Linked DNA regions of Homo sapiens. The protein of the gene in region 1 interacts with the protein of each later gene in a biochemical or structural test. Each region holds a gene or a part of one and is shown in the gene's direction. Other genes may lie near its edges. The genes, in order: CDC42BPA and PPM1A.

Region 1 (7,297 bases):
ACAAATTGAGAAATTCTGTAGTGTTAATTTTTTTTTTTAAGACTTAAAGGGTTTTGGTACTTTTAGAGTTGGAACTTGAGTTCTTAAGTTATGGTTCCTTAATGACACTCTAGTCTGTGATTTTTGTCATTTAGTATTCTTTCCTATCTGCGAAGCTATGGGAGAACTCTATGTACCAGTAGTAAATATAATTTTAAATGATTTATGATAAAGAGAAAACTGTATCCTCCATTGCCTTCTGATTATTAGAGTTTAGGTAAGTAGTTTTATGTTATGAGATATTTCGCTGTATTATCAGAATAATTTATATATATTTTCCATTAAATATGTTTTCTTGGATGTTGTTTCTTATATATGTATAAGAACACCTCATTTATGTATATTTTTATATAAGCCAAATATCAAATAAGTATTTGGCTGAGTATTATTTTTATTAGTATGGAAGTCTGGATAAAGAGTAAAAAGAAAGTTAAGAATGGAAAAGGCTGTCAGGAGTTGCGTAGTGAGTAGTGGTATTTGCTGTCTTTAAGTTATTTGAGAATTTAGGTTAAGAGTGCCAGTCTATTTAAGAATTGAAATAGATCAGATGTTCTTCATATGAATTGATAACTGCATTTTGGGGAAATGTCCTATTTTATTTTAATTACTTAACAATATGTGAAAATCAGTTAAGACTAAGAATATTTCCAAATTGTGAATTGACCTCAGTTCAGTGTTCTAAACATTATTTTTTGGGACTCTGGTGGAAATTTACAGGGATTGTTGTTGGGGTTAAATTTGGTAATTTAGATTTGCCTTAAATGGTGTAATTTTAAGTTTAATTTTTAATAATTGAAAAAATATTGTCTTTTATTTAAATCTTTAAAAGACTATTTGCAACAGGAACGCAGTATTAATAACACAAGTTGTTACATATTTGTGTTCGTTATTTATATTAATGAAAGTGTCAGCTAGATGCTACTTATCTTTATGCTGATGATAGATTACTCTTAAAGTACAGTCAGCCAAGATTCTTACCGGCTGTATTCAGCTTCATTTCTATCAATTTCATTTTATTCCTAGTTTTAGTCCATTTTATTTTTATATTGGTACAGTTAATGTTTTGTTCATAGCAGTATCAAAACAATAAGAAAACTGACAATTCAAAGTCAGATATGTTGTTTTTCTTTGACAGCCTTTCTTGCTTTTGGTGCTGATGGCTTGAGGGAGGAAATAAGTGGAAAGAGAAAGAGAGGATTAAGCCAATGATCACTAGAGCAAGGGAATAAAAGTGCCTTAAGACTATAGATCACATTTAAATTTAATAAGATGTATTATTTTTCATTTATAGTAAATAGTATTTGAAAGACTATGTTTTTTGTCTGCTTAGTTTTAAGTTGTTGAAATGATTATGGTTTGTATGTTTGTGTATACAGTAATAGTCGATGTCAGCATAACTCTAGAATAAATTACAGTGGAGTTGTAGAAGTAAAAATAACTTCCACATTGTAAACTAATTTGCTAGTAATGACTGAATTAGTATATCATTCGTTAAATCGGCCACCCCCTACTTTGAAATGGGAAATTGGAATTTTGGGGAATTATTTACCAATTTACTTAATAAATGTAAGATAATATTAATACAAAATAAATATGCAAGGCTGTCTGTACATGGATAACTATTTTGATGCTTTTTGAATTTTGGACTTTGTAACATACAGAAATTATCACTAAATAACTAATTTTATAGCTTATTCAGATTTTGTATATACATAGAAAATAGTCTGTTTAATAAATTTGTACCTAGAGCATATCAGCAGGTACTATGCTTTAAGCTTTTCTTTTTATTAGTATAGTTTTAAAGCTGTTCACTTTTTTTTTATGACACGAGTGTTAATTAAGTGAGGTGTTGATGGATATGTATCTTTTCTAGGACACTTTTGTTCTTCACATATGCTGTTCCTCATTGTTAGCTTTTCCTGAGTAGAATTTATTAATTAATCAGTCCGAATTATCAAAATGTTCACTTAATACAGATGATTACATTTATTTTATTTAAGTTCTCAACTAGAATAATCAGCAATATTGGTTGGGTACTTGTTTCCTTTATACTAGCCACCTAATATTCTATTCTAGGAATGATAATGAGTAATTACAATTATTTTATCTAGTACAATGCTGGCACATGGTAGAAGTGTGTTCAATAGATGTAATGGCTATTATTATAACATTTCTGTTTGTCTCTCTCTTTTTAAGAGAAATTACACTTAGAGGTAGTTGCCAGATGATACTGGTTACTGGCATTCATGATGGAATAGCATAGGAGTGATGCTGTTGATAAAATTACATCTAGGAAAAATTCCCTATAAAGTAGAGTGAACTTAGGTATAATGAACTAGTGCTGTTAACCCCTAAAGTCTTTGAAATACTTGATGTTCATTAGTAATTTTTTTGTTTTTAGGAACATCACCCTTTTATATTATGTATTGATTTATTTTAGAGACAGGGTTGTATTATAATTGTTTTTAGGAACATTACTCTTTTTATTTTATGTATTGCTTTATTTTAGAGACAGGGTTTTGTTAGTCTGTTCTCGCATTGCTATAAAGAACTACCTAAGACTGAGTAATTTATAGAGAAAAGAGGTTTGATTGGCTCACAGTTCCGCAGGCTACAAGGAGGCATGCAGGGGAGGCCTCAGGAAACTTGCAATCATGGTAAAAGGCAAAGGAGAAGCCGACCCCGTCCTGCATGGCTGGAGTGGGAGGAAGAGAGAGAAGGGGGAGATGCTACACGCTTTTAAACAACCAGATCTTGTGAGAACTCACTCACTATCACAACACAAAGGGGAAGTCTGCCCCCATGATCCAGTCACCTCCCGCCAGGTCCCTCCTCCAACACTGGGATTACAGTTTGACATGAGATTTGGGTGACGGCACAAATCCAAACCATGTCAAGGGTCTTACTGTGTTACCTAGGCTGGTCTTGAACTCCTGGGCTCAAGAGATCCTCCCACCTCAGCCTCTTAAAGAGCTGGGATTACAGGCATGCACCACCACACCCAGCTTTTTTAAAAAAGGAATGTATTGCTTCATGAGTGAAAACAGGATGTCAGGATTAACACTTTAGGAATTTTAGACATATATTTATTTTATATGGAAATGTAAGGCATACCTTAGTATAGCAGTATATAAAAACAAATAGTGCAGTATGTTGGAAATTTTATGAAATGTCCCATAATTCCTAGGACTTGAATACTATTACACAGTAAGCTCAGGCTATTTTAGGATAAAATAATTTAGCTCAAATAAATATTTTATTGTACCACTCTTTTATGGCAGTCAAAAATTTATTCTCTGACCTTTTTCTCATTTGGTACATTTATTGACAGTATGTTACGTATGTAGCTCATTGTTTTTCTCCTGCTGGTTGTGATAGGTTTTAAAACCAATTACTAAGTCTAACCAGCATTTAAAAAAAATTAAAGACTAGAATAGAAAATATAAAGTACATCAAATATAGAAGGAATAAGTATTGTTGTGCAAAACATTGTGTTTTCCTGTAGTCCTTATTCCCATATTTCTTACTATAGGTTGAGATAAAAATAGTTTGAAATACTTCAGTGTAGGTGCAGCTATGCTATGTTGACTGTTAAACAGTGAAAATATAGACAGTTCATTTTTTCAAAAAGGACACACGATAGATTAGGGACTTACTCAAGAACCTAGTGAAGGGAAAGAGTGTAAGGTATGGGCAAGATACAGACTTGGAAATAGATGGGAAGAGGAGACATGGGGGAGGGAGAAAAAGAGAATGAGTAGGGAGAGGGAGACAGAGAATGAGAATGAATACTGTGTTCCTGAGTTGCTACTTCAGTCTGACTTGTTGAATGATAGGGTATTTTTTTTTTTTATGATTGGGTATTTTTAATTTAAAAGAACTTAATGGGCAGGGGAGTTAATTTCACTCTTGTATTTCTTTCAATGGTTTATTGTCTCTTCCTTTGTTTTTTTCCGTTTCTGAGTTTGGGCTAATGGGCATTGACTTTGATTGATTGTCAGAGGTATATACGTTTTTGAGTTTGAGTGATAACCATATGACCTATAAACAAAGGTAGTAGTTTCTTGGTTTTAGCTTCTCATCACTTCAGCTGAACTCTAGGGTAGATGTAGGTGAGGATTTGCTAGTTCTATCAGATTTTTTCTCATCATTTGTTGCTCAGGAAACTGCCAGTTTTAGGTATCGAGGACCAAGAATTGCTTAGCTCCTTTTGCCCTGTCTTGATGAGTCAAGAAGTCTTTGCATAATAATTGTTATGAGAGACCATCATGGCTCACTACAGCCTCAACCTCCTGGGCTCAGGATCCTCCTGTCTCAGCTTACCAAGTAGCTGGAGCTACAAGCATGTGCCACCATGCCCAGCTAATTAAAAAATTTTTGTGTGTGTGGAGATGGGGGGTCTCATTATGTTGTCCTGACTGGTCTCAAACTCCTGCCCTCAAGTGATCCGCCTGCCTTGGGCTTCCAAAGTGTTGGAATTGCAAGTGTGATCATCTGCACTTCGTGTGATTTTTGTTTTTGAATTACCCACACTGTAAGTATGGATTATCCCAGACACAAGTTTTTTGTTGTATATAAAAACTCCTTGGCCGGGTGCGGTGGTTTACGCCTGTAATCCCAGCACTTTGGGAGGCCGAGGTGGGCGGATCACGAGGTCAGGAGATTGAGACCATCCTGGCTAACATGGTGAAACCGCGTCTCTACTAAAAATTCAAAAAAAAAAATTAGCCGGGCGCGGTGACGGGTGCCTGTAGTCCCAGCTACTCAGGAGGCTGAGGTGGGAGAATGGCGTGAACCCAGGAGTCAGAGCTTGCAGTGAGCCGAGATCGCGCCACTGCACTCCAGTCTGGGCGACAGAGCAAGACTCTGTCTCAAAAAAAAAAACAAAAAACAAAAAAAAAAACTCCTTTCCAAATCTGGGGGACTTCCTTTTCTTCTCCATTAATGGTGAGTAGAACTCCAGGATTATTCTTTCTAGCTAGCTTCTACACACTTCCTTCCTATGACTGCCATCTCTTTTTCTAATCAGTACGTAGGGAATGGCTAATCTTCTATTGGCTAGTGTTTCTTTATCTATCACTGTATGAGAGCAGCACTTTAGCTTTCATGTTAACGGGGCACAAAGACCTGGCTCCCCCTTTCCAATCCCACTGTTTGCCTTTACTCTTCCTCATGGAACTGTTTGCTTCTCTTTTGGGATTAGGGCCTCTTCACTCTAACCTCCCTCCCTAGTTTCAAAGTGTGTTCTGGAAATCCATGGGATATTTAATAGATGCTTGAGCAAGGGGAAAGGTTTATATGAATAAATCAGTTTGGGAAAAGATTTTAGACAACATTTAATGTTAAAAATACAGCAGATTATCCTAGAATTTATGAAGTTTATCTGACTATGGAATAGGCTTTTTTTCAGAGCGTCTGGAGGATGGCTGGCAACCAGTGTTTCACAGAATACGCTTTGGGAAATGTTCTTCCAGTATAAGGTCATGGTTTTCCTTGTAACTTCCTGAGTAGCAGGGTTAGAAAGAAATTTTGAGAGAAATTTGGGATATCGTGTGGATTGGAGAGAGAATCCAAATCTGAATAGGTTATATTTTACTTAGTGGCTGTGAACTTCATTTTCTGTGTGAAAGTCATGTGCACTGAAAGATAAATTTAATCATGGTGAAATAACATGAGTGATGCTGTTGGTAAAATTACATCTAAGAAAAGCACCCTAAAAAGTAGAGTGAAATTTGACATCATAATGAACCACTGCTGTCAACCCCTAAAGTCCTTGAAATTACTGAGAGATCTCTTAATTATGACCTTTTCCTGCTCTAATTAAGCTTACTTTTCTTTATGTGTAGGCATTTACATTAAATACAGAAATTGTCACTTTATTTTTTACAGCTTTCATTACTGTAGATGTTGCAAAACTATTGTCTATCTGAAGAGATTACATTCATTACTTTGTGATTTTTAAGAGGAAAATATCATGGACTCATAGTTTTAAAATCCTGTTACAGTGTTAAGTATTGTTTTTTGCAGTGTAACACATTTTGGCTAGGCCATTGGTTTCAGACTTTTGGACTAGTGTGGGAACTTTACTACTATTTATTACATCCATGAAGCGCTGTGTTTCTAGTGCCAGCAACTATTTATATATACTGTTAAGGAAACTAGAAAATATATACTTTTATTAAGGAGAAAACATAATTGGTGCTATTTTGGCATTGTGTGAACAATTAAAGCTGTGGTTACTATTAACTTTTGTTCAGAGTTTTTGGGAGGCCAGATAATAATCATAGAGGACAATCTAGTTTCATTGTTTAAAGACAGACAGCATATAGGGGAATAAAATTAGTTTTCTTGCTTATTTTTTTTTTTTTTTTTTTGGTAGAGATAGGGTCTCACTATGTTGTCCACGCTGGTCTTGAACTCCTAGCCTCAAGCAATTCTCTGACCTTGGCCTCCCCAAAGTGCTGGGATTACAGATGTGAGCAGCCGCACCTGGCCTTTTTTCTTTTTTCTGATTTAGATTTATTTTTCTCTTTAACTCTTCCTCACCAGTGCCATTCTTCCCACTCCTGATCTAATTATACTGCAAAGTACTACTTATATGGATGAAAACAATCTTTTGAAAAGATTGTGAATTATTTCAGTCATGTGCAATCATGTGTTAACTTTCAGTTTTATTTCAGATTGCTTAAACGTCACTGTAGGCTTAATCAAAGACAAAAACACCTTCTGTTTAATTTGGTCTATTCATAGTGATAACACTTAATCCAGTTTCCTTAGAGTTTCCATGGTGAATATCTACAAGTAGAACACCTAACCTGAAATGTTTCTGTTCTAAACCAATATACTGGAAAAGAGCAAGGGGTTTTGGATTAAGACTGACTGCTTTGATTATTAACTGGGTGATTTAGTTATTTAACCTCCCTATGTCTCTTTATGAAAAATGGACATAAGACTAATAGTTTATTTTTCTAAAAAGTTAAAAGTTGGTTTAGGATTCTTCCTTTTCTGGTGATTTATGGTTGTATTTTGTCAGCTTGCTTCCCATTCTGTTTTTTTTTTTTTTTTTTTGAGATACAGTCTCACTGTGTTGCCCAGGCTGGAGTGCAGTGGCGTGATCTTAGCTCACTGCAGCCTCTACCTCCCGAGGTCAGGCAATTCTTCTGCCTCAGCCTCCCAAGGAGCTGGGACTACAGGTGCACGCTGCCATGCCTGGCTAATTTTTTTCTTGTATTTTAGTAGACACAAGGTTTCACCATGT
Region 2 (5,664 bases), on another chromosome or scaffold:
TGGAAATATACATATTTGTATATATAGCCTTAAAATTAATGTAAAGTTAGGGGAGTAGTGGGGAAAGTAATGTGAAATGTCTCAGATTTAAGTAGTTAAATACCAGCAAAATCTTTTCATTATCCCTCTTATTTTGTGAGGTGATTAAATGTAACTTAATTGTATTTAATTTATATCTTATTCCAGCATGAATGAGGAAAAACTGAAGTACTATTTATATTTAGAAATTCATATCAGTTGAAATTACAGAACCAATTCCATACTTACAATAAATACTTAATGTCTAAATCTGTGGTAGAGTGCGAAGTATGATAATGTTCTAAGTTATGGCTTTGCAAGCATCTAAATGTGCATTTAATGAATACCAGTGCTTCTAGTATAGACTAATTACCAGACATACTGGTACTGAAAGCTAAATCCCTATTATAACAAACCAGTTCCTTAATATTTTAAGTAGACTGACAACTTTAGTTCCAGAAATTGCAAAACTTTGAACTGGACTGTGTAATCTTTTGAGATGCAAAACTTAAGTCACAAGTAGAGTATGTGATGGAAAGCTGTATTTCAAACCATAACAGCATATTTAGAGCCTTTTTTTTTTGAGTCTTTAAACAAGAGAAAATTAAAATATTCCTGTCAAAATTATTAGTATTGAAATTAGGCTTGGACACGAGAGAGAACCGTATTTGAGTGATGTGAGAAGACTAAATCTTTTCCACATGAGTCAGCACTGCCATACTAATAATTTTTTTACTATAAAAATACAGGAAGGAAGTATACATTATAACAGCAGACTGTGTGTGTTCCTGATTCCTGGAGGTAATAGTGGGGGGAAACCAACCATACTTTTTAAAGGCACTTTTGCACCTCTATTGTGCACTTCATTCTTGTACCACTTAAATTCTTCACCCCCATCCCCTTTTTTTGTGCTAATTAGCATCTCAGGGCAATGCCTCAAAAATGTTTGATGTGTTCTGTTCTTTGGAGGGAAAAAGTTCTTATGTGATGATAATATAGTACTCAAAATATACTTTTATCATTTAAATGTCTTATTTGCTGCTATGAATAGGAAATAACATTTTGTATAGCAGGCTCTGTTTTACCCTAACATTAAAAAATTTCACTGATCTTTCTTTCATTAACAGGGTAGAATCTCCTAATTTCCACTTTCTTGGGAATATACTTTTATAGACAATAGAAGCAGTTCTCAATATTAGCATATACTTTAAAAAATCAAAGTGATAACTTAATTCAGCTTTGGAAGTATCTCAAACATATTTTTACTTTATAGTGCATTAACTTGCTTCTAGAGTACTTAATGCAACTGCTCTAGCCACTTAATTTTTTATACTAATCTCAACATTAAGAAATTTGGATTAAGTAATAAATTAGTTATGTAATTCAAGTAATCTGAATTACAGCAGTACTTTTAGTGATCATTCATAGGACTATATATTAACCCAGCTAATAACTCAGTTTTTTTACAAAATGTTTCGAGTATTATTGGTAAAACACTGTTCTAGGCTAAGCACATTGGGACTGTAAAGAAATGAGTAGATCCTTGGCTTCAAGTTTACATCTGGACAATTTATAATCTAGTGTATGTTAGTATTATAACTGGATCACTCATCAAAAAATATATATATATATCTATTGCCCACCTGCTATCTACCAGGTACTTAGCTGATCAAGGCAGGCCCCTGCCCTAAAGACCTTGTTTATACTTCCTTTACTCACCTGAAAACTGTTCTCCAGTTTATTTTCTTCTCTCTAAAGTTAAAGAGTAATTCAGAAGAAAATTTTGCTTAGCATAAGAATAAAATTGGACTGAAGAGGCTTAAGCCCATTCAGTATCCTTGATTGCATTTATCCAACGGCCTTTATTCTTCCTGCTGACAGCAGTAACTCAGAGGAATAGGTAGTAGATTTCTGAAAATTATCCAGCCATGGAAATGTAGGTGGGGTTTGAGTTTAAGGCATTTAAAAATGTAAATATCTCTAGCTAAATTTATCTTAAGTAGAACTCTGTGTTTTTGTAACACACTGCCAGTGTTAATATCAAATTTTAGCCAAATTATTACTATGTGTTTTAATATTTTAAAATAATTTCACTGCCCATCTTTACTGGACAAACTCATTTGGAGTTCAACTTGTGATTTCTGAAAGAACTGATGAAATTGGGTACTGCTTTTTTTCTCCATTTTTCGTTTTGTTTTAATTTTGAATTTCATGGTATATACTTTTAGTTCAAACTCAGCTGTTTGTACAGTATTGTATTAGGATTTGGTATTAGAAAAGATGTGTAAATATCTTAGTATATAATTGTTTCTCATTTGAGGTTTTTCTTCTAAGGGACCTTAAAGAGTTTTATATACTTTTGCTCACAGAAACTGCTGGTGAGATTACCATTTTTTGAGTATCTAGTCTTCTAGTTTTTCTTTTAGGCATTAGGAAGCCTTCTTTAGAGTTCAAAATTTTAGAAGCCTAATTTGCTCTTACTTCCTTCAATTATGTGCCATGTGTTTTGGTTTGTATATGTTTTAAATTGTATATTTCCTTGGAATATGCTTGAAATATTTAAGAATACATTTTCAAAATGTATAATACTGTATTGTTTTGTTGATCAGAATAATAAGTCTCAGTTAAATGTTTGTTATTACTGATAGTCAAAATGCTCAATAGAAATGATGAGAGGCATTGGTTCCAATTCATTGTCAAATGAACGTTTTCTAATTTTGTTCACAGATTCTTTCCCTTTCGATTGTTCTGTATGTTAAGATAGTGGCTTCTGCTCTCACTGTTTTCCTATTTATATTACTAGCAGGTAGGAGTGCTAATTAGAAAAACTTAGATGGTATTGAAATTACAGTTGACAACTTATATTTTTATGAGATGGAGAAAAAAGATTAAGTTGATATAACAACAAAGTGGACTTTTTTTCTTCCTTATCCTGCACGAAATATTGCCCTTGTTTCCTCTACTTTCCTCTTGGTGTTTTCTCTTTTTTTCAAACAGAAACAGGCCAATTCCATTTTCTTGAGCAAGAAAGCTTAGTGTGTTACTTCATCAAGGCCAGCTAATACTGTGTTAAACCGGGCTGAAAATGAGAAAACTTGGGAGATGGAGGAATGGGGAAATGGCAGTGGGATAGGTAGGGAAGGATTACTCTTAATTGTTTTAAAAGCCATAGGAAAGTCTTCCTTGTACGTGGCTGTAAATTTATAAGAACTATTGTGTCACATAAACCAACAAGAATGAACCTTTGCTGCTTCAGATAATTTGATTTTTCCAGCAAGGAAATTAATAAGTTACTGATTCTTCAGCATAGAAACAACTGAGAAGAATTAATGCAATGTTTCTTCACTAGAAAACCCAACCCTTCATTTCTTTTCATTGCTCCAAAACCCAGTTTTCAACTAATGGTTTTCTCATTAAACTAAATGTTTAGAAAAGTTGTTTAGAGTTTTTCTTTTTCTTTTACATAGTCCTCCTGATCCAGTATAAGACTATTTAGTAACGTGCATTTGTATGGTACTATCTAAAGTAAGTTAGATTGATGTAAGAGATCGGGTAGCTGCGGAACAAAATTAGTTATATCCTAATTAGGTACAGTGAATGACACAAAATCATTTTAGCAATGCTTCTTAACCTTTTGGGGTCACAGGCGTTTTGAGACTGATGAATCCTAGGGACTTATTTACCCAGGAAAATGCGTATATAACATACATATCTCCCTAAAGTTTACAATATTGTAGTGGTTCATGGGCCCCCTGGTTAAGAGCCCATTCTAAAGTACAATAGGGCATCATCCCTTTTCCTGCAAAGCCCAAAAGTATATTTCTAGGGCATGAAAATAACTTGAGTCTATTTTAAGGAATTGTTTCACTCTAGAGGTAGATAGGGGACCTGGCTAGAATCTGACATTAAAATATACTTTTTAAAAAATATTATATTTGGGGTGGGGAAAGTGATTAAAAGGTGAAAAAAAAACATAGTATTCAGAAGTTTTGGAGGTTAATGTCTTTCTCTAAGATTTGCCACTTTAGAAATTCAACAGAAAAGAGGTAAAACAGAAATGGAATGTATCTGGAACATTTTTGGCCTCCATAGTGCAGATATACTATATTAACAAGTAATACATTTATTTACCTGTCAGATCTCCAGGTTTTAAGATTTTGAGCTTTCTAGTATTAGGATTCATTAAATGTTCAATTCATTTCATATTCTAAGGAATTAGGTTATTTACTTACTAATTCAGGATGTTAAAATAACATCCAAGTCGGACAACCACCACCAATGCACACAGTTAATGAGATTTCTAAAATATAATAAGTACAATGTAACAAACGTATAGAATTTTGCATTTGTTGCCAAAATTAGATGTTTAATGACAGCTTATTTAATTCCCATTTGTGGGACTTCTGGAACATAGAAACCATTATCTTACCTGGTTATCCCTTGACTAAATAGCATATCTGCAGGAAAATATCTTGTTTGTAGTGATATGCCCCAATAGTGATTGATTTCACTCTTGAAATGAGTTATATCACTTAATTTGTATAAATGTTATGAGTGGAGAGACATGTACATGTTAAAAGCATGTTGCATTATATATTCATTTTTTAAACTCTATAAATGTTAAGAATAATATAATTGCAGAAATATTTTTCTTAAATACAATGTGTAACAAAATTCTCCGTAGCAACTCACCCACTTTGCAGTTTATGTGATCCACACTTTTAAAGAAATTCCATAAATGTATATTTTGTATTATGTATTATTTCCTGGTCCAAAGAAAATATGTGAATTCAGTTCTAACTTTAAGAATGTACTGTTTGTTTTCAAGTTCATTGAAAAATTGCATTCAGCCTGCGAATGGTTGCAGATTGTATGTTAGATGAAAAGTAGAAATAATTTCTAGTTTGGAAAACTGGTGCCACTAAATAAACAGGCAATTACATAATGTGTGTGTATTTATGATTGTTTAATATTGCAAGCAGCATTTTTATTCCAAGAAACGTGGAGAATTTGAAATTAGCTGTTGGAAGACCTTAAAAGAATTGTTTTTTTCAGCTGAGAAATAAATCTGATAGGATTTGAACTAGATTTGTTCCTTCCTAATTTTAGGAAGTTTACTGAAAGCCAAGAAGTTTGAGTTGATGGTTATTGTCATGAAACATTCCAGAAATAAAGAAGCCAGAGTAGTTTCTCTTTGGTAAGAACATTCCCATTTGTCTGTCTTCTAGTAGATGATTACTCCCTTGAAGAGTTGAAATTGGGAATTGGGAGTGGTCTGGGAAAGGACTTCCTCACCTGGTATCTGTGGTATAGTGCCTGCTTCAAAATGGCACTTAAATGTGTGTGTTTCTAGGATGCAGAAAGGAGGTGTTTATTTCCTCTGCCAATTCTGATCATTGGCTATATTATATCCTGTGTTCATTCATGTCTGAAAGTGACTTAAACAGGTTTAATTGATTCTAGTCATGGCTTCCATAATTAGAGAATTTTTAGAGTTGAACTGTTAATAAAAGTGAAATTCTGTGAGCCGCAAGAGCTCATTTTGTTTATTGTAAAATGTGTAATAAAACAGTAATGAAGCTTCATAACCAAAGGTAAAATATCTTAGAACTGAGTAAGGTAAAGTAAGGCAAATAAGGTTTTATT

The links.
Region 2: of the proteins of CDC42BPA (region 1) and PPM1A, one has a biochemical effect on the other in vitro, tested with the Homo sapiens proteins (one study listed by BioGRID).

What each region holds. Positions count from the first base shown.
Region 1 is NC_000001.11:227,308,320-227,315,616, reverse strand, and holds part of CDC42BPA (serine/threonine-protein kinase MRCK alpha), read left to right. Parts: intron 1-7,297. UniProt on the Homo sapiens protein: Serine/threonine-protein kinase which is an important downstream effector of CDC42 and plays a role in the regulation of cytoskeleton reorganization and cell migration. Regulates actin cytoskeletal reorganization via phosphorylation of PPP1R12C and MYL9/MLC2.
Region 2 is NC_000014.9:60,294,125-60,299,788, forward strand, and holds the end of PPM1A (protein phosphatase 1A), read left to right. Parts: 3' UTR 1-4,963; downstream 4,964-5,664. UniProt on the Homo sapiens protein: Enzyme with a broad specificity. Negatively regulates TGF-beta signaling through dephosphorylating SMAD2 and SMAD3, resulting in their dissociation from SMAD4, nuclear export of the SMADs and termination of the TGF-beta-mediated signaling.